Linked DNA regions of Homo sapiens. The protein of the gene in region 1 purifies or fractionates together with the protein of each later gene. This does not show direct contact. Each region holds a gene or a part of one and is shown in the gene's direction. Other genes may lie near its edges.

Region 1 (2,640 bases):
GTGCTGAAGCTAATCATATTTATGTCTGTCTTTCTCTACTTTTCCCTAATTCCCTCTCCTCCTGACTCCTGTAGACATTCCCAATGATACCCACCGTCATACATTTAGGCTTTTCTTGCCTTTCCCTGAAGCCCTGTATTTATTAATGCATATATTTCCCCTGCTTGTTGTACAAGTAAGTTACTCTTTTCCTTTAATCTGTAAGATTCATGAAATTCGGGGCCAGGGAAACAGTTTAGCCTTAGGGAAGGGAAAACACTAAGTGAAACTGTTTACAATAACCTCATACAACCTTCTGTCCCATCTCCTGGTTCAGCCTAGGTGTTTCACTGGTCCTCTATGAATCCCAGCACTTATAATCCCAGTCTTTTATCACTCAGGTGCTAGGAAAAAAAACATAGACTCAAGACCCAAGATTCAATGGACCAGGAGAAAGGGGGGCGGTGATCAGGTCACCAGTGACCCCAACCTATGCTCTCGGTCTTTCCTGGAGGCTGCCAACCCAGCCCTCATCCTCCCTTGCTCACAAAGTTACAGGGTAGGCACCTGTCAGGACAGAACAGCAGCAGCGCTACAGCCCAGAGGTTATACATTTCAACAGAACAGGGATCCTTGGCTACTGTAGAAGCAGTCCTGTATGGAGACCTTGGACCAGCAGGGGAAGATCTATGGGCATGGGAGGTGGGCGTTGGAAAGGCTGAGTAGGAATGGTGCCTGGCACCCCTGAACCATGATCTGAGCCTCCCTGGAGAAGGTATTTTATATGTCTGCTGCCAGCTGCTGGTCTCCACACCCTCAACCGTTCTCAACCCCCCTGCAGGGAGAAGGCCTCCTGGGCACTGTCCTTCCACCTGTGCCAGCCACCCCCTGCCCCACTGCTGAATGAAGGCCATTTCAAGCGCTGCTTCTCACTCCATTCCTCTCAGCTGTTATTGCTGCAGGGCCAAGCCCTTTTTAGTGCTGTGCTCGTCCAGCTCACCACCACAGCCCCTCTCAGCCCTCAGTAGGTGGGAGGGGCCAGCTGCCTCTTTAGGCCAGTTGCATCCTCCATTTATCCAAACCACTCCTCTCCTCCCAGTGGAGTGGGGTTCTGCCAGTACAGCCCTACTGCATCATCTGCGTCAGCCGGTCCTAGCCCATCTGCAGGGTGAAAGAACTCATCAAGAGCTCCTTCTGCCCTTGTAAGCCCATCCCAGCTACTTGTAACCATCTCTAAGGGCAATGGCATTGCTCCCTACCCATTCATCTGCATGAGCTACTCTTGGCTTCCTTAAAGGGTCAAGAAAGCAATTTTTCTGCTTACTAGATTCATTGAGATCAGCTGTGTGAGCCCCAAAGTGGGACAAGGGTGTCTCCTTCATTACTTAAAGATATTCATGAGGGTGGGTCACTACAGATGTTGGGGAGCAAGGGCTAGGATCACTTTTTAAAAAATCACCACTTGTGGCTGTCCCAGAGTGCGGTTGTACATCCTCCCCACCTCATAACGCAGCCACTGAGGAAGAGTGGTTTTCCTAAGAAGACATTGCTGGAGTTGACTTTCTTCTGTCCAAACAAACAAACAAAAACTAAACACACACACAAACCCCCAGAAACCCACAATATGTACACGCTAAGGAAAAACTAGCACCCTTCTGTCCACTCAGCAATAAGAGGGATCTCTTCCCACCTACCCTACCTACTCCTACCCCCAACCCCCTTCCCCATTAATGTGAGTAATGAATTAGCCTGACCACAGGTGGTCACTGTAGGCTAATGGAAAATACCCAAGGGAGGGCAAAGCCCCCCATCAGATGCATGAATGTTTGCGAATGTTGACTGCCACTGCCCCACACACTGTGTCTTTATAGAATTCCCCTTTGCCCACCCTCTTCCTGTCTCCACCTGGACACAACTTGCTCAAAGGCTGGTGACTTGTGGGCCATTCATCTACAACCAAGTCCTGATGGAGCAAGAGGCCCACGCCTAGGGGATGCAAGAACAACCCGTTTCTTAAATGTTACCAGTCCCAGCCAATCTTACGGTGACATTACAGTTAAATTTCCCAATTGAAAACAAGCAAACAGACACTCAAACTGGTCCTGTAATTGTTGCTAGACTTTATGTGTTGTACAACTAAACATTGCTGTTTGAACAGTAACTGCCTGGCCTGTCTTATTTGTGCTCCTTGACCAAATCAGCCATTATGTCATCTCACCCATGTGTGGAGGGTGAGACTCTCTTGGTAAGAAATAGCCACAGATATTAGAGATGAAAACACTTTGTGAGGTCAGTTCATCTTCAGTTGGCGTCAGGTCGGGCCTCAGTCATTATTTTCTAGTGTTTCATAACCAAAGTGAGTAATGGATGGGAGGTTGAGGTGGGAAGATGGCTTGAGCATGGGAGGTTGGAGGTGCAGTGAGCTGAGATCATTCCTGACAGGACCAACCCAAGTCCATACCTAAAGGCAGGGGGCTAAGGGGGCAGGTGAGGTCGGGAGGCCACTCACCTATCACTCACCCCTTCGCGCTCGAGCCAATTCTCAGGGCCCGCCTCTTTCTCCCCTTTCTCGGCGGGGGCCTCTACCCTGACTCCGCCCCGCTCCCCGGGCACTGCCCCACCACGTGACCCGGTCTCGCTCCTCCTCCTCCTCCTCCTTAC
Region 2 (3,489 bases), on another chromosome or scaffold:
CTCCTCCCTGAGCAGGGGTCTCTGTTGACTGCCCCCACCTCTGCCCCTTTCCAGGGAGGAGCCGACCTAGCTGCAAAAGCAGACACCGAACAGGTTTTCTCCCAAGGACAGAAAGGGGCTGCTTTGTTCTTCTCAATTTATCCAAATCAGGCAGGTCTCAAGGGGGAGAAAATGGGTCTTCAATCTTCATCAAGTCCACCATTAACACCCTACCTCTCTAATCTAGCCCAGGCGCAGGGAACAGGAGGAAGTCATAGACAGGCCTGTGTTGGAATACAAAAATGGCACGCAAACACTCAGGCGGAGGAGAAAGCCATTGGGCCTTTGCTACCTGGAGGCACCCTTTAGGAATGGGCCTCCATAGAGTGTTCATTCTGCTGGAATACATTGCCCTGGCAACTAAATGATTTTTTATTTGTTTTAGTTATTCTCCACTCAGTGAATCATAGGTGTTCCGGATCTATTTGAAATGCTCAAACAGCAAATCACTAGTTTTAATCCCTTTTGATGCTATAATTTTCCTTCCTTGGTTTTGAACGGTTCAGCTTGCGGGGACAGAGACCCATCGTGCATGTCTCCTAAATGAGACACGGATGCAGCTCATCCTGGCACTTGGGCCACAGAGGAAGTGCCACAAATGCACACAAGCAAATCAACCTGTGGACACTGGAGTTAATAGTCACTCGTGTGGCTGAGTTACTCACCTGTCATTCCTGACATGGATCCAGCCTTTAAGCTTGGGAGGCTGACAAGGAAATAGTTACTATGCCCGCTGCTAATTCACTGTTCCGAAGTCCATGTAGATAAACATATACCGAGTTCTGGCGTGGCCAAACCTGCCGGGGACTGCCGTGGCTTAGCTGCCCCTCCAGTTGTGTTTATCGAAGCATTGGAGAGGCAGCCACCTGCCCATCAGCGTCAGGAACGCAGAACTGGGACTCCGTGCTTCCCCCACACCACAGTACTCAACTGGGGACTGAAAAATAGCAGTTCCAAGAAGCTTTTCTCCTAATCCTCATCAAAAGGACCTCATTTGACGATGGTGGCTTGATGTGGCTCCGTCTCCTACTTAGTGATTTCCATTCCAGTGCTGCCTGCCCTGGGTAACTGCGCACAACATTGCCTGCCCCTCCGCTGTCCCCAGAGCTCCGGCCTCTGTCGCCATCAGCATCAGCCTGGGAGTCTCCCCAGGACGGCATGGCACGTGAGCAGCACTGCAGTCCTTGGGTCTTCGGCGCCAACCTGCAACCCTGATCAAAGGAGGGTGAGGGCGTGGGAGTTTCCTTTCAGGTGTGTCAAAGACATATCAGCTGCGCTCTAGAAAGAGCCAACGGGTCAGCCGCTTCCTCCTAGTTTAACTTGATTTTGAGTGATTTGTCCATATGGAAATAGTAGGGTAGCATCAAACTGCGTGATTAAATTGGAAGACTGTCTTTCCGTGTGAACACAGGATGGCAGACATCAGAGGGCTACCGGGGCAGGGTGGACACGTTCCTGAGGAGAAGCCAGGGTCTGCAGCTCTCCATCCTCCCCGGTAGCTCCAGCTGCAGGGCTGAGCTGCTTCCTATCCCCTCAGCTCTGATCTCTGCCACTTCCCTGTTGTGTGGGAGAGTGGAACACTCCTGGGATGCCAGGCATTTCATAATGGGAGGAGGCTCCTGTAAGGAACGGTGGGCGCCCGCTCACAGTGGGGGGCCCTCCAGCATGGTTGCTGACTCTGTCAGCCCCCAGCCCCGGGTTGCCAATTAGCCAGAGAGCTCCTGCACACACAGCACTTCCTTCCCCAGTGTGTTTTCTACCCAGATGGGGACAAAGGAGCCAGACAGTCATATCAAGGGCAGAGTTCAAACATTTTGAAATGAGCCATTCACATGCTTCTTTTTAAACATGGGCATCACCTGCCCAGAGGCCCTTGGCCTGAAGCAGCATGCTGCTGACCTTGGGAAGAGAGGGTGGGCTGGTGGGGGTGCTGGAGGAGCTGCCCGGCCCTGCATCTGCAACCCTCCAGTCCCCTGCCCACAGAGCACGCAGAGCCCTCCTGTGCTCCGGGAACGAGATAGCAGCTTGGCAGCTCGGCCTCGCATCTGAAAAGGAATACGCTGCAAAGCCTCGGCCCTAGACCCACATCTGCAGCTCCCTGGCCTGTGGCGGTTCTTTCCTTCGGGGCATGCCCTTCCAGATCTCTGTCCCTCCTGTCTTCTAGCACTTTAAAGATGCCCCTTATCATCAGATAAAGAGAAGTATGGGGACGATGGGGTGGCACTAACAGTAGATGTCATTGGTGAGGACTGATGGCAAAGTCTCATTCCCTCACAGCCGCGCTGCCAGCTCGCCTCCCCCTCGCTTTGCTGGGAGCCTGCCCTGGACTCCAAAAGGACACGGGTTCACCTCCTTTCCCAGGCTGGAGGGGTACTGCCCTTCCCTGAGGGGCCTTCTGACTGGGGCAGGAACTCTTTTCGTGTGTCCAGCTGGGCCTGGAGGCCAAGTCAAGGTGTGTCACACCACACACCAGGGCAAGGACCTCATCTCCAGGGAACAGGGACAAGTGAGTGGCTACCAGAAAGTCCCCGGGCAGCCTGGAGTTCCCCAGAGCCTGGCTGGTCCTACAGAGCACTTCTCCCCTGGGCCACCAGGACCAAAGCGACCTAAACACTTGAAGCTAAAAGCAAGTGCTGATGATGGGATGGGCTGGCACGTGGCTGGGAGGGCTCCTGGGCACCACAGAGCCCTCAGCCCAGCAGAGAGTGGAGGCTCAGTCCGTGGGGAGCGGGGGTTGTGAAGGAGACATGGCCAAGCCCCTGGTCGGGGAGATAAGCTCCCCCATGCCCAGGCCAGCCCCAGGGGCAACAAGCCAACATGGAGAGAGGTGGCAGGTGAGGCTGACAGGTGGGTGCCTGTGGCCTGGGCCCATGAGGGCAATGGTCCTCAGTAACCAATGGAAAGGACACAAGGGCGCCATGGTCACCACCACCCAGGCAAAGAAATGGGAGGTGGCCAGCACCCCCACCCTTCACTTTTCATTATTATTATTATTATTATTATTATTATTTTTTTTTTTTTTTTTTTTTTTTTTTTTTTTTTTTGAGAGTAGAAAGGCAACTTCATTGGAGCTTTTGGGGAAAAAAGCCTTCAAAGTCACCTTCTGGCAGCTCTGGGGAGGGTCATTTGGGGTGGACTGAGAGTGTAGGGCAGGTAGGGTGTGTGCTGGGCAGCAGCTGTGTCCATGCAGCCAGCACCCAGCAGGGCAGTCTCACAGGAGCCGTTGTGAGCACTTTGGACTTGAAGCAGCTATGAACCACCCCCCGCCCCCACCGTCTCTCCCTCTCACACACACACACACACACACACACACACACACACACACACACACACACCCGTTTTACCATTTTCTCAGTGCTTTTTCTGCTTTCATTCCTTTGATTTTAGTTAGAAGCACAAGCCATGATGGATGTGGGACTCTTCTCAATTGCTCTTTAAATTGTCACTTTT

Evidence for each region. The genes of interacting proteins can lie anywhere in the genome.
Region 2: the proteins of SEPTIN3 (region 1) and BTBD9 purify together in Homo sapiens (affinity purification with mass spectrometry; 3 studies listed by BioGRID and IntAct, with this or other methods). This does not show direct contact.

What each region holds. Positions count from the first base shown.
Region 1 is NC_000022.11:41,996,082-41,998,721, forward strand, and holds the end of SEPTIN3 (neuronal-specific septin-3), read left to right. Parts: exon of another isoform or gene 1-820; coding exon 821-886; 3' UTR 887-2,140; downstream 2,141-2,640. UniProt on the Homo sapiens protein: Filament-forming cytoskeletal GTPase. May play a role in cytokinesis.
Region 2 is NC_000006.12:38,171,441-38,174,929, reverse strand, and holds part of BTBD9 (BTB/POZ domain-containing protein 9), read left to right. Parts: 3' UTR 1-3,489.